3 linked regions of the Homo sapiens genome follow. The protein of the gene in region 2 interacts with the protein of the main gene of each other region in a biochemical or structural test. Each region holds a gene or a part of one and is shown on either strand. Other genes may lie near its edges.

Evidence for each region.
Region 1: the proteins of PCOLCE (region 2) and BMP1 interact in a biophysical measurement, tested with the Homo sapiens proteins (one study listed by IntAct).
Region 3: the proteins of PCOLCE (region 2) and COL5A1 interact in a biophysical measurement, tested with the Homo sapiens proteins (one study listed by IntAct).

The regions. Positions count from the first base shown.
Region 1 is NC_000008.11:22,168,314-22,175,414, forward strand, and holds part of BMP1 (bone morphogenetic protein 1 isoform 3 precursor), read left to right. Parts: intron 1-5,288; coding exon 5,289-5,402; intron 5,403-7,101. UniProt on the Homo sapiens protein: Metalloprotease that plays key roles in regulating the formation of the extracellular matrix (ECM) via processing of various precursor proteins into mature functional enzymes or structural proteins.
Region 2 is NC_000007.14:100,598,402-100,605,393, forward strand, and holds the start of PCOLCE (procollagen C-endopeptidase enhancer 1 precursor), read left to right. Parts: upstream 1-3,961; 5' UTR 3,962-4,055; coding exon 4,056-4,150; exon of another isoform or gene 4,151-4,765; intron 4,766-5,028; coding exon 5,029-5,137; intron 5,138-5,436; exon of another isoform or gene 5,437-5,557; coding exon 5,558-5,816; intron 5,817-6,689; coding exon 6,690-6,814; intron 6,815-6,992. Other genes in the region: FBXO24 (F-box only protein 24), read left to right, coding at 1,630-1,800, 2,133-2,498. UniProt on the Homo sapiens protein: Binds to the C-terminal propeptide of type I procollagen and enhances procollagen C-proteinase activity. C-terminal processed part of PCPE (CT-PCPE) may have an metalloproteinase inhibitory activity.
Region 3 is NC_000009.12:134,637,301-134,644,877, reverse strand, and holds the start of COL5A1 (collagen alpha-1(V) chain isoform 1 preproprotein), read right to left. Parts: upstream 3,076-7,577; 5' UTR 2,691-3,075; coding exon 2,582-2,690; intron 1-2,581. UniProt on the Homo sapiens protein: Type V collagen is a member of group I collagen (fibrillar forming collagen). It is a minor connective tissue component of nearly ubiquitous distribution. Type V collagen binds to DNA, heparan sulfate, thrombospondin, heparin, and insulin.

The sequences.
Region 1 (7,101 bases), on a different chromosome or scaffold from region 2:
CAGCCAAACCATGAAGGGGGTCCTTCTGCAAGATTCCCAGCACTGTTTGGCTGCCCCAGGTGACTAGCCAACACCCCCCCGGAGAGACCTTGGAGGCAGGAATTGGGACACAGTTGATCCCAAAATCAGAGAAGCCCAGGGGCCTGACCCCACAGGGGTGGGGCTAGAAGCATGTCACACCCAGAGCTGGGTAGTGACCCTGTGCCAGTGAGGCCCCTGCTACCACCTCAACCTCATCTGACAGCCCAGAGTCTGCAGGAGCGGGAGGGGCAGCACTTACCAGCCCACATCCCCATCCCACCCAGGGGGACGCCTGGCCAAGGTTTGGACATCAGAGAGCCATAGAGGATTAGGGTACACCCTCTGAGGTCGAGAAGTAATCTCTCCTCTCACCAGACCACATTCCCCCTCTAGACAGCTGAGTCACCCCACCCACCCAGGCCCCTGCCCCTGAGTCACCTTCTTATTTCAGTGCCGCAAGGGGTGAGGAAAAAATTTGTACTCTCCCTGGGCCCTACATGGGGCAGGGCGGGGCAGTGGGGTTCCCCAGGAAGAAGGGATTCTTAAGAAGTCTAGGCAGGGGGCAGTGGCTCATGCCTGTAATCCACTTTGGGAGGCTAAAGTGGGAGGATCACTTGAAGCCAGGAGTTTAAGACTAGCCTGGGCAACACAGCAAGATGCCCATCTCTACAAAAAAATTTAAAAATTAGCTGGGCATGGTGTCATGCACCCGTAGTCCCAGCTACTTGGGAGGCTTAGCTGGGAGGAGTTGGAGCTCGAGAGTTCAAGGCTGAGTCCAGGAGCTGGAGGCTGTAGTGAGCTATGATTGTGCCGCTGCACTCTAGTCTGGGTGACAAAGCAAGACTCTGTGAAAAAAAAAAAAAAAAAAATCTAGTTTCTCCAGAGATCTGGGGAGAAGATATTGCGGTCGGGGGAGTAGAAGCGCTACTCCTCAGTCCACTAAGAACCTCCTAAGGAGATCCAAGGGAGTCAGCTAATCTCTCTCTCTCCCTCCCTCGCTCTCTTTGTCTCACACAAGTGCATCCCTGTCCATTTCTAAGTGCGCCCTTGTCCTTTGGGGAGTGTGGCCTGTGAAACATGGTGCATGCCTGCAGTTATGTGTGTGTTTGAAAACACAAGATCCTGCACGGGGAAGTGGTTGAGTGTGTGTTTGTGCATATGCGTGGGTGTGTCGCTGCCTTGTAGGCAAGCATGTTCACCTGTGATCGGTCTTCCTGAGTACATGCAGGCATGGAGGCAAACATGCACCTCTGCAGAAGTGTTCACATGTGATGAAGTCCATCCACATGTTTGCAGGGGTTTGAGTGTGTCATCCCCCAGCTAGAAGCTTGCGTTTGTGCAGTGGGACATGCATCAGTCCTGCACATATAGCCTTGGGGCTCATTACACCAGCCAGCCTCCTCTCCCCACTTCCCCAGAAGGGGAGGCCTTGCCATGCCCTGGGGGAGGAGACGGTGGAGTCCAGAGGTTGACCTGAAAGAGTGAGATTCTTCCCAGGCACAAGCACACAGATGGGCTCAGCCACAGTGCTCCTGGCAGGTTTACAGCTGGAAAACAACACAAAAAATTTTTATCTTGTGTTGAAAATAACTACTACCCTGACCGTGACCCCAGGGCTTCCTCTGAGTAAGGAGAGACCTCCTAGACTCCTTAGCATCCAGATTCCCTCGCTTCCCCAGAGGGCAGCCCAAAAGCACAGAGCCCCAAGGCCCAGCTCCTGCCCCTAAGGCTCTCCTGCCCATCTCCTCTCTCCCCACCCCCACTTGGTTCCCACGCATTCTTCAGCCATGACATCCTCACTCCAGGAGCTCAGCAGCCAGGGCCATGCCCTGCCCTGCCTTGCACTTGCTCTGCCCTGGTTCTACACTGGCCCTGGACCCGCAGGCCAGCACAGTTCTGTGGCCTCTGCACCAGGGTTTCACTCAAGGAGGAGTGGGGGCAGAGAGTGTGGGTGAGCCAGCGTTCCCTGAGGAGGTCTAGAGCTGACTTTGAGCTTACGGGTTGTGTTGGGATAATATTAAAGTGGCTGGTGGGTGCGTACCGTGTTGCATGCTCTGTGCTGGGGGTTCGTGTATATGTCTTATTTCATGCAGTAATCCTAGGAGACAGATTCTGTTATGTAGGAGAACACTGAGGCTTAGAAGAGTTTACATGACTTGTCAGCTAATAGTAGCCAACCTGGATTCCAAGACAGGTCTGTCTGACTCCAAAGACCTTGCCCTTTGCTCTATGTCCAAAGGTGAGTCTAAATGTCCAGCCACACCTGTATGCGGTGATGCCTGTGGGTTTGGGTGTGGGAGCCTGCAGGTACAATGCCTGTGAAAGGTATAATATGTGTGTACGGGCACAGTAGCTTATGCCTGTAATCCCAGCACTTTGGGAGGCCAAGGCAGGAGGATCACCTGTGGTCAGGAGTTCAAGAACAGCCTGATCAACAAGGTGAAACCTCGTCTCTACTAAAAAAAAAATACAAAAATTAGCTGGGCGAGGCTGAGACAGGAGAATTGCTTGAACCCAGGAGGCAGAGGTTGCAGTGAGCTGAGATTGCACCACTGCACTCCAGCCTGGGTGACAGAGTGAGACTCCATTTCAAAAAAAAAAAGAAAGAAAGGTATAACACAAGCCTAAGTGTGGAGGCATTCGTGTGGCAGATGCACATCTACGTGAACTTTGGTGAGTATGAACCCACTGCTTCTTCCTTGGAGTGTACCTCCCATCCCATGTCCTTGTTAAGGCCACTCTTGCATGTCACCTGGGAAGCATCTTCTGTTGCCGTCCCATCAGTTGCTGAGCCAAGGCCACCTGCCGAGGATGGCGATTCAAGTAAGAGTAGCTTTCTCATGGGTTGGAAGAGATTTGGGGTCACTTACTGGCTGGTGACCTTGAGTGAGTTATCGCCCTTCATAGGCTCAAGTGTTCTGATGTCTAAAGTCAGGGAGGTGGGCTGGAACCTAAACCTAGCCACTTAGGTTATCTCTCTCTGAGAGTTTCTAATGCTCTGCAAGAGCATGGTGTGGAGTGTGGCTTACTGGGCATGTTGTGGGCAGGCCAGGATTAAATTAATTAATGGGAAAGCACTTTGCCAATTGGAAAGCACCACAAAAATTTCAACATTTACATAAGGTGTCATTATCACGACTATTATTTGCTTAATGGGTCCAGAGCTTGCAGCTGGTTTGTGTATGTTGGAGCTTGTGCATGTGTGTTTTTTAAAAACCGTGTGTGACTGTGTGTGTATTTTGTTGTGGATGTGTCCGTCTGAGTATCTATTTTTGTATATATGTATTTACAGTAGGGGTTCTAGAGAGTGCAGTGGTTGCTGCACTGGGAATGGGGAGGCCTGAGTTATACGTCCAGTTTTCCAGTGACTAGCAGTGTAGGTTCAGTTAAGTTGTTGCTTTTGGGACCTCAGTTTCCTCATCTATAAAATGGAAGTTTGGCCTCGATGACTGCCACAGTCACTCCCACATTCTGTTGATCCTGTCTAGGTGAGGGTGTGTCTCTGGGCATGTATTTGCAAGCCAGAAGAATATCAGCGTGGCAATTCATTCATTCGAACATCCCGGAGTGCCTCCCGCCTGAAAGTGCAGTGCTGGCTGCTGCTTTCATGCGCAAGGATGTGTGTCCCTGGCTTTGATGGCTCTGCACTGGATGGCAAGGGTGTGGACGCCACCATATGTCTGTAGGAACACTAACCTTGGGTGTCTGATTCTGTATGTGATGAAGTCAGTGTGTGTGTGTGTTCACCAGTGAGGCCAACTGGGGAGGAGAAACCTGTGTAGAAGTCTTCAAGGTTAAAACAATTTGTGTAACGCGACCGCCAGGCCTGTATAGCACTCTGCCTGGATGAGAAGCAGATGTTGCTGTGGGTGGAGCTGCAGGGAAGCTGCTGTGGGTCCCACCTGTAGCCCAGCCTCCCACTTCCCCCAGCCCAGCCCAGCTCAGCATGCAGCTCCCATCTGAGCGCCTTACAAAGCGGCCAGTTCTATGGCCTCTGCTTCCTTTTCTCCAGACTTCTCAAAAGGAAGACAGACAGTTCAGCCGGGTCTCTGGAAACATCCCTCCTCAGCTCCAGATACTGGAATCGGAATGGCCCTTTAGGGAGGCTCTCTTCCCCTCTGGCCTTTCTGCTTGGGCAGCCTAAGACTTGGAATAGGAATTACTTGAGAACTGTTAAACTTTTTCCTCCTAGCTGGGAAGCTCCCAGAAGGTATCTTCGTTTCCCAAAGATGCTTATCTGTTCTAATGAAAAATGGTACAATTTTATTTCCTCTTTTTTTTTTTTTTTTTTTTTTTGAGACAGGGTCTCACTCTGTTGCCCAGGCTGGATTGCAGTGGCATCATCTCAGCTCACTGCAGCCTTGACCTCCTGGGTTCAATTGATCCACCTGCCTCAGCCTCCTGAGTGAGTAGCTGGAACTACAGGCATGCATCACCATGTCTGGCTAATTTTTGTATTTTTTATAGAGACGGGGTTTCACCATGTTGCCCAGGCTGATCTTGAACTCCTGAGCTTAAGTGATCCACCCACCTCGACCTCCCAAAGTGTTGGGATTACAGGTGTGAGCCACTGCACCTGGCTTATTTTATCTCATAGACACCCCCTTAGTTAAATTGAAACAGCATTTGCTGAGTGACCACCACATGCTCAGCACACCCTGTTTTATTTTCTTCATAGCTCCCATTGCTATCTGGAAGACCCTAGGTCAGTATTTATTTACTTGCATATTATGGAAGGTTAGCTCCACCGAAGCAGGGGCCTCTTCTGTCTTGCTAATAACTAGGGTATTGTCTGGACCACAGTAGTATGTTAACTAAGTATTTGCTGAAGAATGATGGCTCTGTGGCTCACACCTGTATTCCCAGCCACTGGAGAGGCTGAGGAGGCTGGAGGATCACTTGAAGCCAGGATTTTGAGACCAGCCTGGGCAACATAGCAAGACCCTGCTAATTTTAAATAATTAGCTGGGCACAGTGGTGAGACCCTATCTGCCCCACACTCCCCAAAGAATGATGAGCTAACAGACTGGTAGGGGCTGAGCATCAGCTTTACTGGGATTTTAACTGAAAAGTAAGCATGAGCTTCCCAAGAAATTCTATAAGCTGATCCCTAACTGCCCTTCTCCTTCTCGTTCAGATGGCATTTGAGGATCACAGTCGCTGTGGAGGTTGGGGGCTGGTGCCCACAGGGTTGGGGCTAGAAGCACGGTGCACCTAGGGCTGGGTAGGAGGATTAACTCAGCCCTGGCTTCTTCTTTTCTCTTTAGCTGCCTTTCTTGGGGACATTGCCCTGGACGAAGAGGACCTGAGGGCCTTCCAGGTACAGCAGGCTGTGGATCTCAGACGGCACACAGCTCGTAAGTCCTCCATCAAAGCTGCAGGTAAGCCGGGTGCCAATGGGCCCTCTGTGTCCTAGAAATGGGTTCCAGGCTTAGGGAAACAAGGAATCTCCCTGTTCCCAGCCAGGCCCTCCCAGGACAGAGGCCATGAGTTTGACCCCAGCACATGGGTCTATCTTCCCTCGGGATATCTTCATCCCTTCCCCAGAGGAGTAGTAAATATAGATATCCCCAGCAACTAAGAACTGACATTCTTTTTGTTTACAGTTTAAAAACCACTTTCAAAAGTATTGTCTAGCCTGACTGTCCCCAACCACCTTTAAAGGTGGTGTCAGGACAACTCCTGTTTTACAAGTACAGAAACTAAGATTCACAGAGGTAAAGTGACCTGCCCAGGATCACACAACTAGTGAGTGGCAGAGCTGGGACTGGAACTCAAGCTTTCTCACTCCAGACCTGAGACTCTGCCCAACACTGCAATCCCTCCTGGGCTCTCTGTTCCCACTTTGCAAATTTCTGTGCATCCTCTGAGGCCCATTTCAGGAGCTTCTCCTATTCTTCTTTCCCAGTTGCCCCCGAAACATGACTGTCCCTTCATTTTCCCTGTTTTCTCCCTCCTCTGTGATCACACTGTTACCCTGTCATTTATCACACCATATTGAAAGGATTTGCTCCTATGTCTCCCTAGCTCTTTAAGGTCAGGGATGCTTTCTTCTTATCCTTGATTGTGGTCCAAACTCCTAAAAACCCATGTGGTACTTGTGCATGGATACAGGAATGGGAGGGATGAGGGCCTGGGCTGTGTCTGTTCTTTCCAGTCCCTTACTGCTCTGTAGAAGGGTGAAAGCTCCTCACTGCCAGTGCTGATGTTTGAGACATGGTCCTGAGAGCACACAAATAGCCCTCCCCTTCCCAAAGGGCAGGGGCAGGGATTCTTTCTTCTTTTTTTCTGTCTTTTTTTTTTTTTTTTTTTTTTTGAGACAGGGTCTCAGTCTGTTACCTAGGCTAGAATGCAGTGGCACCATTTCGGCTCACTGCAACCTCTACCTCCTGAGTTCAAGCAATTCTCGTGCCTCAGCCTCCCAAGTAGCTGGGACCACAGGCATGCAACACCACGCCTGGCCAATTTTTTATATTTTTAGTAGACACGGGATGTCACGGTGTTGGCCAGGCTGGTCTCGAACTCCTGGCCTCAAGCGAACTATCCTCCCTGGCCTCCCAAAGTGCTGGAATTACAGGCGTGAGCCACTGTACCAAAGGGCAGGGATTCTTATTGAGGGTCTGCTCTGGGAACACTGTGGTGTGCCTGAAGTTGTCCTGTCCAGCTTGAGGGAAGATCCTGATGTGGGCACCTTATGGAATAAAGTACCCCAGAGGGCAGGTGGCATTGGAGGGTGACCTGGTGGCCTGCTAACAAGTAAGGCTCATGTGACCTTAGTGGGGACTAGTAGGTATGGCACAACGGAAAGCTGCATGGAGGGGTCCCCTGCTAACCCACCAGGTGACTTTGGCCAAACCTTTGGCCTTAGTTTCCTCATCTGTCAAATACAATACGACACTTGTCCACATGCCTTAGAGCTCCTATGTCAAATGCAAACATGAATTTGGGAAATCAAAAGAAGGCATAGAGTTCTGAATGCTCCACAAATGTCAAGGTTTATTCAATGAGAAGGGATATTTTCCTAATCTCAGATCCCCACAATTCCTAGAAAATGAGTACACCTTTGTTCTCTTTTACGAT
Region 2 (6,992 bases):
GAGAATGAGGGGGCAGAAGACGCCCTGGGATTTAGCCACTGAGAGGCCAAGTGCCTCTAGAGAGAGCATGTCAGTAATGTAATAGAGAGAAAAGCGAGATCCCAGGGAGGTGCTGGATAGACTGGCTGTGGGAAGGAACAGTAATGTGGTCAGCCTCAGATTGGTCATGTAACCAACTCTGCTGCTTAAGAGAGAGAGGCAGGAAGCGGCAGGAAGCAAGTAGAAGCTTTTTTTTCAAAAACAGGGTGGCCATTTTGGAAAAGAATTATGTGATAAGTTGAAAATGCTAGGCTAAGCATTTCAACTAGCTCACACCTGTAATCCTAGCACTTTGGGAGGCCAAGGCAGGTGGATTGCCTGAGCCCAGGAGTTCGGGACCAGCCTGGGCAACATGGTGAAACCCCGTCTCTACTAAAATACAAAAGAAATTAGCCAGGTGTGGCGGTGTGCACCCATAGTCCCAGCTACTCGGGAGGCTGAGGAAGGAGAATTGCTTGAACTGGAGAGGCGGAGGTTGCAGTGAACTGAAATCGTGCCACTGCACTTCAGCTTGGGCAACAGAGCGAGACTCCGTCTCTACAAAAAAAAAAAAAATGCTAGAGGCTGAGGTGGGAGGCCCGGAGTTCGAGATCACCATGAGCAACATAGTGAGACACTATCTCTATAGAAAATTTAAAAATTTAAAATTTAAAAATTATAGGCACATGCCGGGTGTGGTGGCACATGCCTGTATTCCCAACTACTCAGGAGGCTGAGGCAGAAGAATGGCTTGAGCCCAGGAGGTCAAGGCTGCAGTGAGCTATGATTGCACCACTGCATTTCAGCCTGGGCAACAGAATGAGACCCCATCTCTAAAAAAAGAAAAGAGAAAATAAAAATGCTAGAGTGGAGGCTGGGCTCAGTGGTTCATGCCTGTAATCCCAGCACTTTGGGAGGCCAAGGCAGGCAGATCACCTGAGGTCAGGAGTTCGAGACCAGCCTGGTCAACATGGCAAAACCCCTTCTCTACTAAAAATACAAAAATTAGATGGGTGTGGTGGCAAGGACCTGTAGTCCTAGCTACTTGGGAGGCTGAGGTGGGAGAATCACTTGAACCCAGGAAGGCAGAGGTTGCAGTGAGCCGAGATCGCACTGCTGCACTCCAGCCTTCCGACTCTGTCTCAAACAAAAAAAAAAAAAAGAAAGAAAGAAAGAAAAGATAATACTAGAGCAGGAAGGGAGGGATAGTGGAAGGGAAAGTCCTTCCTCAGGGTGGTGTTGGGGTCTAACCTGGAATTGCACAAGAAGCAAGTCTCCCCGAGGCTGGCAGGCAGGATGAGAGGCTGGACTGGCATAGACGGGTGGGCTGAGAATGAGGGGTACACCACAGCAGGCCCTGGGCTCAGGCAAGGAGCTGATTTTCTGGGGGCATAGATGAGATACCAACAGAAGTGCAAGACCCTATGTGACCAGTTAGAGTATGGGGGCTGCAGGGGTCAGCAGGGCAGACCTGGGGCGTGGGACAGTGCTGGCTCCCATTTCCTCCTCCCCAGTTCATTCTGCCCCGAGCCTTCCAGTCAACCTTTTCCCACCCCAGCCCCCCCGTCCCTTGGTGCTCCCTGCTCAGGGACCCTGGCCGTGTGTCCCCAGGTTTGTTACCTGCAGCGGCCCATCACCCTGTGGTGCGGCCTCAACCACTCCCTGGTGCTGAGCCAGAGCTCAGAGTTCAGCAAGGAGCTGCTGGGCTGCGGCTGTGGGGCTGGGGGCCGCCTCCCAGGCTGGCCCAAGGGGAGTGCCTCCTTCGTCAAGCTCCAAGTCAAGGTCAGAGCGGGGTCAGGAGAGTGGGCACCCAGGGAGGATGAGAGCCATGAACCAGGAAGCCCACAGGCTGTAGCTGGGGCTCCTGCAGGGACCCAGGGGGTCCCATTTCCCTAGCACCACCCCACCTCCCTCCTCTGCCGCACACCACGCTCTCTGCTTTCTCCCTTAGCAGACTGTGCTGGCCTTGCCCAACCTCACACACCCCTGGGACTTAGCCGGCTCAGGGCTGGTGTGAGAGGGAAGAATGCAATAGGCAGATTAGCCCGGGCACCCTGGGAAACCCTGCAAGGAAAGCACCACTCAGCCATGCCCCCTTTCTCTCCTCCTCCAAGGTCCCTCTGTGTGCCTGTGCCCTCTGTGCCACCAGGGAGTGCCTATACATCCTGTCCAGCCACGACATTGAGCAGCACGCCCCCTATCGCCACCTGCCAGCCAGCAGGGTGGTGGGGACTCCTGAGCCCAGCCTGGGGGCCAGAGCACCCCAGGACCCCGGGGGGATGGCCCAGGCCTGCGAGGAGTACCTCAGCCAGATCCACAGTTGCCAAACGTTGCAGGACCGCACGGAGAAGATGAAGGAGATCGTAGGGTGGATGCCCCTGATGGCCGCACAGAAGGACTTCTTCTGGGAGGCCCTGGACATGCTGCAGAGGGCTGAAGGAGGCGGGGGTGGTGTAGGGCCCCCAGCCCCTGAGACCTAATCCCCCTCATGCTAGCCTAGTCCCTGGAGGAGGGAGTCCGGCCCCAGGCCAGGGACTAAGGAGCAATGACCATTGTGCACATGCGTGTGGGAAGGGGTTGCTAGGGGGTGGGGACGGCTAACCAGGGTAAGAATGTTCAGGGGGCTGCCCAGGAGGGGCCCCCAACCTGACTATCATGGACAAGAGATTTGATGGATAGAATAAAAGGCTGCAGCGAGGCCTGGTGTGGAAGCCTTGGGGGCTGGGAGGGACAGGGGCAGGGATGGGGTGGGTGGGTGCCCGGCTTGGTGGGTGCAGGAGGGCAGGAGCCCAGGCAGGGGCAGGCAGCACAAGCAGCTCCAGGTCTCAGGTGCAGCAGAGCTGATGCTGCCTGAACCCTTCACATTGTTGTCCACTCCCTGCTCCCAAGAGCACACCTGGTCGTTTGGACTGGGAAGTTCTGGCCCTACCTTCTGGAACAACTCTATGCACAGATGCTCTTGGCTACCCCACTGGGATCCCCTGCCCACTAGACTTGTCCCCATCCTGAGGCAGCCTGTTCCTCCTGACCCCCGAAAGCTTCCCACCCATCTCCCTTCGGCCTGAAGCCAGCCCCCCTCCTCTCTCCCTTCTGTTTACCTCCCAGGTTTGGGCTCTATTTTCTACTCCTTCCACCTCTTCCTGAGTAACAAGGACACTCCCTTCATCCACACCCCATGCCTCCTGCCTTGCTTCCTGTACCTTCAAGTAGTTGGAAGAGGTCATGGGTGAGAATTCCTTCTCCTTGGCCTAGTCTGGCCCAGGTCTGGAGAGAAGGCAATGGAGATGTGAAGTGGAGGCCAGGTGTGGTGGCTACGCCTATAATCCCAGCACTTTGGGAGTCCGAGGTGGGCGGATCACCTGAGGCTAGGAATTTGAGACCAGCCTGGACAGCATGCTGAAACCCTGCCTCTACTAAAAATACAAAAATTAGCCAGGTGTGGAGGCATGCACCTGCAGTCCCAGCTACTCGGGAGGCTAAGGCACAAGAATTGCTTGAACCCGGGAGGCGGAGGTTGCAGTGAGCAGAGATCGCGCCACTGCACTCCAGCCTGGGTCACAGAATGAGACTCTGTCTCAAAAAAAAAAAAAAAAAAAAAAAGAAATTGAAGTGGAAAATGAGCTGGCAGGGGTGGTCAGGCAGGGGGTGAGCAATGAGGGCTCCTGAGCTGAGGAAGCAGGGGCGGGGGGAGGATGGGGGCTAGGGAGTCCTCAGAAGTTCCCGGAGATACTCCCTCACTGGACAGAGTGGGGTTCCCGATGACGTTACTTGAGGCCTGGGAGACGGCCTCTGCCCCTCACTGCTCCTCCCCCTCCTAAGGTCAACATTTATGTGTCCTAGACCTAGAGAGGTCCCAGGACACGCCACTGTCCCGCCTTCCCCATTGCCCGCCCCACTGGCCAGTCCCCACGCCCACACACCCAAGGCTGCCCCATCTGGCGCTGATTATCCTGCTGCTGCCGCCACCGCTGCTGCTGCTCTGCAAAATTCAGCTGCTGCCTCTGTCTTGAGGACCCCAGCGCCTTTCCCCCGGGGCCATGCTGCCTGCAGCCACAGCCTCCCTCCTGGGGCCCCTCCTCACTGCCTGCGCCCTGCTGCCTTTTGCCCAGGGCCAGACCCCCAACTACACCAGGTAGGTCTCTTGGCATCTTCCAGACAGCTCCAGTGAACTTCAGACCCCCGATTCCTTTGGGGTTATGCCTGGAGATATTTTGGGTTCCCTTGCTGACACACCACTCCCCAGATTCCCCACCGCCTCACCCTTCTCTGGCCCCCAAATCCTCCCCATCTGCTGCAAGACCTTGGTCTCCTGCAGGCCACCACTGCTCCCATTCCCCCACCTTCGTCCTCTGGTCTCTTAAGTCTCCCCACCCACCCAGATCCTTGACCCCCCATAGAACCCAAGAGAGAGCCAAGCTCCTGAACTTGCCTGGTAGCTGGATTCCAGGAAGGAATTCGAGAGGGATTGTAGGGGGAGGAGGGGGCAGTGAGTGGAGACTTGGGAGTCAGAATCTGAAGTAGTTTGGAACAGGGGCAGGGCTAAGGTGTGGAGCTCGCGGAGCCTGGCCTCCAGGTTCAATCAGAGGGCCATCGCCACTGCAGCTCCCTCCATCTCTCCACCCCCTCCCCCCCACCGCCTCGTGGCTGTGTCCACATCTGGAAGTAGTTAGGCGGCTCCTGTCCCTGGACTGCCAGGCAGAGTGAGGCGGGAGTCTGGAAGGGGGGCCGAGGAGGATTCCGGGAATTCCTGTTGGGGTGGGGGTGGGGACTCTTGGGGTTGGAGGGATGGTCGAGTTGCCAGGCCCACTTTTCCCTTATCTTTGTGGGAGTCTGGGACACCCCAGCCCTGTCCTGGCTGGTGGAAGCTGCCCCAGGTCTCTCAAGGCCTTTCCATTTCATCCCCCAGCTTCCCTCCTTGGAGTTTCATCCTCATCACCTCATCCCCATCTTGCCAGTGCTCCCCCGTCCCACCCGTCCCTGCTCTTTCCTGACCCCTTTTCTGTTCTCCAGACCCGTGTTCCTGTGCGGAGGGGATGTGAAGGGGGAATCAGGTTACGTGGCAAGTGAGGGGTTCCCCAACCTCTACCCCCCTAATAAGGAGTGCATCTGGACCATAACGGTGAGAAACCCCTCTGGGCACTACCCCTTGTTAAAGTCTCAGAGGCAAAAAGGCCTGACTGCGAAGGGACCCCCCCCCCGTCCCCCCCGCACCACCTTCTCAACCTGGGGCAGCTCCAAGTGTCTTCCCTCTGTCACTGAAGGCATCATTCCCACCGTAACACGCATCATCTTAACCCTTCCCTCAAATCTTCATTCTCCAGTCCCCGGCCCTCCCTCCTCTTCCAAAGCCTCAGCTCTTGTCCCCTGCACAGGCTACCAGCAGAGCTGCAGAGACCAGGCCCTCTGCTCTGCACTCACATGGAGGCCCCTTCCCATTCAGTCCGTTTCTGCAAGAAACGCTTGGGGCAGGGGAGCTGCCCTCTGGCTGGGTTGTGTGGGGCCTGACTCTGTGGGTCCCCGCCTCTGTCCCCGCTATCAGGTCCCCGAGGGCCAGACTGTGTCCCTCTCATTCCGAGTCTTCGACCTGGAGCTGCACCCCGCCTGCCGCTACGATGCTCTGGAGGTCTTCGCTGGGTCTGGGACTTCCGGCCAGCGGCTCGGACGCTTTTGTGGGACCTTCCGGCCTGCGCCCCTAGTCGCCCCCGGCAACCAGGTGACCCTGAGGATGACGACGGATGAGGGCACAGGAGGACGAGGCTTCCTGCTCTGGTACAGCGGGCGGGCCACCTCGGGCACTGGTGAGAACTCCCTCACCTCCGCCTTCCCCCCCTCCAGGCCCCGCCCCGGCCGCAGCCCCGCCCCCAGCCCTAACCTCCGCCCCGCCCACCCCGCGCCCCAGTGCCTAGGGCCCCCTACCTCCCTGACCCATTTTCCTCACTAACCGCCCCTTCAGTCCCTCCTCCCCGTCTTCTCTCCCCTCCTCCCGCACCCACCCATCCCTCTTCCAGGGCCCCCCCCAGGCGCGAGGCGGAAATGGGTCACCGACCCGCGGGTGGAATGGGCGGCCTGGGGTTACTGGGACGGTGAGTAACTGCCGGCCCCCGTCCGCAATCGGGCTCCCTCCGTCGGGCGCGAGGGGGCACCCCAGGGCTGGGGGGACTAGGTTCCTCCAACCCCGGGGGGCCCCTACACCCAGCCCTGGGCTCCCGATTGCGGTCCCATCACCCCCTCCTGGCGGCAGAAGTCTCCCTTGCAATGTTTCAGGCGGGGACCTCCCTAAAGGGGTCCTCGGGGGCTGTGCCCCAAGTCGAGGACACCCTCTCCAGCCTGAAAGGGGACTCTGCTGCAGGGCCGGGGAGATGGGATCTCCTAGGGGAAGAGGCGCGGTGCGGCCGCGGGTCGGGGAGGGGCCAGAAGGGGGCGTCCAGCCAGTTCCTCCTCCCGCTTCCACCGCCCGCCAGTGCGCCCTGCGGCCCCAGACTTCCCCGAGCCGCGCTCCTCCCGGCCGCTCTCTGTTAACCTGCCCCCATCTTACCTCCCCTTCTTCTCGTCCCCTCATCCTGAGCCCCAGACATCCGAGCTGCCTGCCGGGGCTCCCAGCCTAGAGTTCTCCTGAAGCTGACCGAGGGTCTCCACCGCCCCCCACCCCCGCTCCTCTCTCCCCTCCCCAGAGCACCAATTTTGCGGGGGGCGGCTGGAGAAGGCCCAGGGAACCCTGACCACGCCCAACTGGCCCGAGTCCGATTACCCCCCGGGCATCAGCTGTTCCTGGCACATCATCGCGCCCCCGGACCAGGTACCGACCCTCCTCCCCGGGCTGCCCTAGGGGACCCAGGCGGCGCCCTCCAGCTTGCAGCCAGCAGAGATTTATTGAAGATCTGCTGTGTCCCGAGCACTGCGCTTGCGCTGGTGGGCACCCAAAACAGCCCCAACCCCTGCATGCACGCAAACAAAAATGTAAAAATTACAACTGA
Region 3 (7,577 bases), on a different chromosome or scaffold from region 2:
GACTCTCCCCACAAATTATTGCAAAAAGCAATCACGTGACTGGAGTCAACCAATGGCGTGTAGAGGAGATGACCTCAATTTCCAAATATTGGGGTCATGTTTCATTTCCCATACTCTCCTTCCCCGTTACACTGTTCAGCAGCCCCAAATGCAATCTTACTTTTCATTCCTTCACACACTTGGCCAAAAGAAAGCAGGCAAAAGAACTGTGTTCAGAAAACCCTCAGAAAACATCTGGCAGATCCGAAGATGGAGAAGACAGCAGGCACTTGCTGGTGGCTCCCCCCCGCGCCTGCCTCTCCAGTGGACAGCCGCCCCCTCCCCGCCACGCCTGCATTTCCAGTGGACAGCCGCCCCCTCCCCCCAGCGCCTGCATCTCCAGTGGACAGCCGCCCCCTCCCCGCCACGCCTGCATCTCCAGTGGACAGCCGCCCCCTCCCCCCAGCGCCTGCATCTCCAGTGGACAGCCGCCCCCTCCCCCCAGCGCCTGCATCTCCAGTGGACAGCCGCCCCCTCCCCCCAGCGCCTGCATCTCCAGTGGACAGCCGCCCCCTTCCCCCAGTGCCTGCATCTCCAGTGGACAGCCGCCCCCTCCCCCCAGCGCCTGCATCTCCAGTGGACAGCCGCCCCCTCCCCGCCACGCCTGCATCTCCAGTGGACAGCCGCCCCCTCCCCCCAGCGCCTGCATCTCCAGTGGACAGCCGCCCCCTCTGGCCATGCTCGAAGGATGACTTCCAAATAGGTCCCACCCTGGGAGGTGGAGAGACGTTGGCAAAACTCACTAAGAAAAGTGGTCTCTCCACATGCTTCTAAAAGTCTGTTCTGACAAAAGCAAAATGTCCAACTCCATAGCCTGCTGCTCTGGGCCATCCTCACTCCCACTTCCAACGAGCCGCACTTCGATTAGCGAGGGCAACCAGAGAGGGAAAAAGACAGTGTGGAGGTGGGGAGATGGGCAGGGAGGGAAATGGAACCCCAAGCCCAGTCCGGTGCATGGTCCCCAGGCAGTGCCCTGCCCCAGCTGTCTAGGGTGACGATTCCCCTGAAGGACTCCCTCCTGAGTTTCTGGGGAAAAGTCCCCAGAGGCGCTGAGACAGGGCCTAGTCCCCCGGCAATGGCACAGTCCCTGACCACACCTTCCTTCTCCTCTCCACTTTTCTGGGGACCTCTGTTGTCCCCCACCTTCAGCTAACCCCTGGAGAAACACAAGCCCAGTTAGCCCAGGGTCAGGAGAGAGTTGGTGGCGGCCCAGGGATGAGATCCCAGGTCCTGGGAGCCAGGCCAGGCTCCTGGCTCCTCCCCCAGAGCCCCAGGGCAGCCCCCACACCCAGACTCCAGCTCATCCAGTTAGCCCAACAAGCACTGATCGTGCCAGGGAAAAAGGAAAAGAGTGTTTTAATTGACAAGCGGAACACGGACAATGATTCTTCCCACTTGTCTTCCAATCGTGAAGCAGAGAGAAGCATTCTTGCTGGCAGGCGGCGGGCTGGTCCAGACGTTCGCTGAGCCCACCGTCCCATCGCTCTGCCCGCCACTTCTCCTGACCTGGCAGCACACAGCTCTGAGCCTCCATCTCCCCGCCTGTCAATAAGGATTCGGGGGACCTTCCAGGGCTGGGGGCTCTGATGTTCGAGAGTCTGTGAAAACCCACCCCGCCACTAACTACCAAGAGCGATGCCTAGAAAAACTCCCCCGTCAGGAAGCTGCGCCAGGGAGAGTTGAACCCTCGAGAACCCAGGCAGGGACGCAGACAGTCCCCGCCTTGAAGCGCCCTCCCCGGGAAGCAAGCCTCCTTCTAAGGGCTGACCCTTGGCAGAAGGAATCCCACATCTGCATATCATCCCAACCACTCACAGCCCCGCCTGCAAGCCCATCTCTGGCTTTGCTCCACGCATCCCATCTCTCAGCAGCGAATCCAGGAAAAGCTGCCTTCCAGGGATCAAGAAGTTTGGGGGTGGGATTAGGAGCAGGGCTGTCTACCACCCTGCAGGGGTCCCCAGTGCCCCCGAACACTTAGGTGACCAAGGCTGCAGGAAACGCTGTCCCTGGGGAAAGCAGGGCGCCAGCTCAGCCTAGAGTGACAGTGCCTGGGGGAAGTTCAGTGCTGGGGGCCCAGGCTTCTGGGATTCCCCCCATCCCCAGGAGTCCCGGGATTTGAAGGGCTGTAACTCTAGGGGGCGGCCCTGCCCGGTTTGGAGCAGAGGAAGTTCTGCTGTAGGGCTGTGAGGGCCCAAGCTGGGCGCCTGTGATGTGGGACAGAGAAGGAAGGTTTTTGGGACAAAAGTTTGCCCGCCTCGTGGACAACCCCTCCTGCTGATCCAGCCCTCGGTCCTTCCTCGGCTCGCGCGACAGCCCCACCCGACCCGCCCGTCTGGGGAGGGGGCGGCGGCGCGCCCGCGGGCATTGTGTCTGCGTGTCGTCATCTCGGGGGGGCCCCCAGCAAATGGCATTCGTGGTCTTGGCCCGTGCATTCCACAGGCCAAGGAAGAAAAGTTCTGCGGGCGAAGGCGCCCGGGGATGACAGCGGCGCCCGGGCTGCGCGCGCCCCATCCCGCAGCCCCGCGCCCCGGGGCGCCCTTACCTGCGCGGCTCGGAGGCGGCGCCCACAGCAGCAGCAGCAGCAGCGGGGGCAGCAGCGGGGCGCCCGGGCGGAGCGCGCTGCGCGCTTTCCAGCGGGTATGGACGTCCATGCCGGCGGGGCGCGGGCCGGGGCGCACAGGGGCGCTCGGAGGCGCGCGGGGACGCACAGGGGCGCGGGTCACGGCCCGGGCAGCGCACTCAGCAGGGACCGCACCACTTTAGGAGGTCATGGGGACCTCGGCACCCCCCGTTCTTCTTTGTGGCGGCGGCTGTTCTGGAAGGGGCGGCTGGCGCGCTCGCCCACGGGCGGGAGGGCTCGACTTTGGCCCGCGGGGCGGCCGGGACCCCGCTGGGCTAGCTCGCCCTCGCCTCCTCCTCCTCCTCCTCCAACTCCTTCTCGCCTCCTCCTCGCCGCCGCCGCCCCGCGACCCGCTCCCCGTGGGCGCTCCGCTCGAGTGAGGTCCTGCGCCAGCCGCGGGGACGGAGAGTGCGGACCTCGCCTTCGGCGCGGAGCACTTTTTTCCCCCTTTTCCTCCCTCCCTCTCTCCTGGAAGGCAGCCGCGGAGGCTGTCGATCCCCAACGCCCGCAGCAAATCAGAGCCCGGCGCTGGGCTCGGCGAGGCCAGCCCCCGCCTCCCACTGGGCGCCGCGGGCGAGGGGGTGGGGACAGCGGGCGAGTCGCAGCGAGGAAGGGGCTGGCCCGGGGCGGAGCGGACGTGGGGCGGGCGCGGCCCCCTGTTCTTTCTCTGAGAGCCGGTAGGCGGGCGGGCCTGGGGCGGCCTCGGAGCCCAGGGGCCCACCCTGGTCCCCCCACTGTTCCCACCCCAGGTGCCCGCACCTGGCCATGCTCCAAGAACCAGTGCAGAGGGGCCCCGAGGTTTGATCACTTCGGGTTAAAAAGAAAGTTGCAGTTTACCCCGCCTAACTTTTTCTTTAACGTGGAGGAGTTCAGAGCTCCTCTTCTGGGTGGAGACTAAACTTCCCATCCAGCCAGATCAGGGCGCCCAAGACTGTGGCCTACGTGTCAACCCGGACCGAGGACCTGCCTCCTAACTGCAGATTGGCACGGGACCGAGCTGGGGTCTGACTTCCCAAGAGCTCCCGGGACCTCCATGTGCTTGGACGGGAACATCTGGGTTATTAATCAGGCGAAGTTTGGCTCTGCGGCCCCCAGGCTCTCACCCCTCACTCCTGCCCACTCCCTGGTGGCCCCTCTGCAATAAAAAGGAAACCAAAGAAGGCATCCCCTTGGGAGTGACAGCTGGCGCAGGGAGAAGGCATTCCTGATCGGCTGCTCTCGGAGAAGAGCTGGGGCCCTGATTCTCCTGCCTGGCTTCTTTAAGCCCCTCGGGGTCTCCTCCAGCAGGAGGCCCGCCAGTCTCTGGGTGGTAGGTGGGCGTCTCTCCCTCCAGCTTCCCCAGGCCTGGCCTCCCTGCACAGCCTCCTGAAGCCTGACCCACACCCCTTCCCCAAGGGCTGCAGGGCTAGTTTTTTAAAAGGAGGGAATCAGAATGAATTAAGAACGATTTGCAAACCCTGGGCCATCCCCATTCCCTTTGAACAAACAATTTAGCCAGAGATGCCAGACAGGGCTGGGACTCCCCTCTCCAGTTACATCTCCAGACTGGGCGTGAAATTCCCCAAATGCTCTTTAATTCTCACCATTCTGGAAACAGGAGGTGAGAGAGGCGTCCGAGGTTAGGTTTGCCAGGATAGCCATGGCAGGCTCCGGAGCTGGGTGATAGGTCGCTGTTGCTAACTTGGTGATGAGGCTTTTAGTCTCCATATCTGCCACATGCGCTTGCATAGATATCAAATATTTCGCAGGAAAAGAATGAGAAGCTCTTCACACACAGACGTGGGGAGGTGCTTGAGATACATTCAGTAAAGCAAATGTTAGTTCTGACCTGTTTCCTTGTTGATTTTATTTTGTTTTACAACTTGTATAAGGCATATGTGATCAGGCAAAAATGTGTGTGAGTTGTGTGCATGTGTGTGTTTGTGTGTGTGCCTGTGTGCGTGTCTGTGCGTTGGTTAACCTGCAGCCACTGGCCCTTTACTTTCCCTGTGGACTTCAATGAGTGAGAAATTCCATCAAACCCCAGACTCCGCGCCAGCCCCAGCTGTGCTTGGTCCTTGGAGTGCCCCCGCCCCTACCAGCAAGGCCAGCTTCACCCCTGAAGACTAGGGGTGCTGACACAGGCCATGGCCTGGTTATCAGAAGAGAGTGGAGGCTTTCTGGTTCCAGCTTCTTTTTCCCCAAGCACAAGTGGAGTTCCTTTCTGACAGTCCCATGTGCACATCCGTGCCAGTCAGCAAGCCCTCCTGTAACTCACAGCCAGCATCTAAACTTTGCCCTGAATTAACACAACTGGCGCCTTAAGAGCTGACACTCAAGTGACCACCCCAAGGTCCCCCAAAAGTTGACTTCTCAGCAATGGTAAGATGGCTCAGTCTTGCAGCTCAAGCAGCCATGACAGATGCACTTTATCCTCTCTTGGAGAGCAAGTGGTGCGGTGGCTTGGAAAGCTGTCAAATGTGAGTTTCCACCCTCATCTGAGCCTTGAGTTGGGTGGAGAGATGAGTTTCTATCCCACCAGGAAACTCAGAGAGAAGTCCCCAAACTTGGCGGCCTGATGTGTCAGCCAGGGACTATGGCAGAATGGCCCGGCAGTACCAATCAGGATTCGAACTGTGTTGCCAAGCTAAGAATATCAGCCACATCTTAAGGCTTTTGCCTCACACTCTTCACCCACACGTGCATCAGTTCTCATGCACCGGTAGGGAATACTGGCATCTCTCCCATCCACAGATGAGGAAATCAGGGGCCACAGAGGGTAGGGGACTTACCCAGTTCATCCGTGACAGGGTCCGGATTTGGACCCAGGTCTCCATGCTTGGAGCCCAGTGTGCACTGCCTGCCTCCCCATGGCATCCGGACCACACGCCTGCCGCCAGGACCACCCTGCCCAGATTCAGACAACAGCAACTGGTGCAGATTGTCCCAAACTCACCATGTTCCATGCCCTCCCACAACTGAGCAAAACCAGAGTCCTTGGAAAACTGCTTATTGCGCGCATACTCCTTGCCAACACCGCTCTAGGCTTTAGGGAGTATGTGGTGAGCAAGGTGCCTGGGTCCCTTCCACATTGACCTGCAATGCAGCAGTGACTCCCACGCCCATGCAGAGGTGGCCCCTTTTTTGCATGTGTGTCTTCCTTGTCTTCTGCTATCCATCGTTTCCCATCTAGCCCTCCCCGGCTGCCTGCTCCTGTTCATGGCACTCACCGCAGAAGGCTAACCAGGTCCTGTACCCTGTGTACTCCTGGGCCACCGGGAGCGCCACCACCCATCACTGCGTGTTTCCCACAGTGCCTAGCAGAGAGTGGAGCAGGCCAGGTGCCCTGCACCTTACACGTGGAGTCCGATGGCCCAACTTCTCCTTCCAAGGCTGTGTTTCCTCTCATTTATTTTTCGAGCGGCAGAGCTGTGGTCCGGACAGAGCGGCCATGGCAACCATCAGGTGTTGCTCTCATGTGGACCTGATGGTTCACCACCAGTCCTGAGGGGTCACACCAGCCTCCCAGAGTCACGTCTGGCTGGAAAATGGCCAGCTGCTTCCCAAGACAAAGGCCTTGAGGGGCAGCCAGATTGTCCCTTCTTCTTCTCCTAGACCCATGGAGGAGGTGGAGGAACAAGGTCTTCTTGGAGTGCCTGGAGGCAGATATCTGCTTGCCCTCTAAGCATTTATGGTCCAGAGACTGCTGAAGTGGGCCCAGGAGGGCCTGGGTGAGCCACGGCCTGGCAGAGGGGCTGGAAGCTGCCCCACTCTGTCCCATGCAGGGGAGGAGTTCCCTCTAGCTGCGCAAGGAGAATGCTCTGAACCTGCATCCGGCACCTGGGGCTGCAGCTGTGTCCTTCAGCTGATGTCCTGGGACCAGGCCAACTCCAGAGTCACACAGACTTCCGTTAGAATCCCAGCAGCACCAGCCACTAGCCACATGACCTTGGGCAAGAGGATTCTGTCTCTGAGCCTCAGTTTGTTATCTGTGAATGGGCGGTGAAGAAACTGACCGCTGGGGGGTCCCTGTGAAGCTCAGATGAGAAGGTAGGTGAGGGAGGCCTGGCCACAGTCCCCTCCCTCCCTGCTCCCTGCCGCTGGGCACTCATCCTCTTCTGCCTCCTCCAAGCCCCCTGCCGCCTTCCAGGGCTTCACCTGCTTACCTGCATCATCTCATTCAATGGAGCAACAACCCTTTGAGGCAGGAGGAAGCTGAGGCTCGGAGAGGTGAAACTATTTGCTGGAGGCTGAACAGCAAGGGTGTGGCTAAACCCAGTAGCCCGGAACGCAGCCCTTAACCACCGTGCAGCCTGCACACCAGCAGCAGAGCAAACCAAGGAGGCGCCGGGTCCGAGGGCCGGCCCGCGGCTGACCGCATGTCCTGCCGGTTCCAGGGGCCCAGACCCCCACTGGCCCTAGTTTACCTTCTGACCCATTGGCCTTGACCACTGCTCCATGTGAGCTGTGGCTTCTCAGCAGACCAGAGGCCACCGCTGTGCCCACAGAGCCAGCAGGACTCTCCCTACGTACTGGAGCGGGGCAGATGGGAGGGAGCCCCTTTCAAGCCAGCACTCTCTTTGAAAAATTACTTGGGGAAGGCCGCCACTTTAAAGCCCTTGGACAAAGCATGTCCTTCATTGCCTTGTTTTTGCAGCCTTCTTCAGCCTGTGTCTGCCAAGTGGAGAGTAGAGGAGAGGGTGAGAGAGGGGCCGGGGCCATGCCCCAGGTCACCAGGCTTCCCGGGTGTGTGAGTCAGCTCGGCGGCCACAGCAGAGTGCCACAGATGGGGCAGCTTAGACAGCAGGGATTTATTCCCTCACAGTCCTGGATGCTGGAAGTCCGAGGTTGAGGTGACGGCAGCACTGGTTTCAGCCAAGGCCTCCCTCCTCGGCCTGCAGTCGGCACCATCCCCCCATGCCCTCACACGGTCATTTCT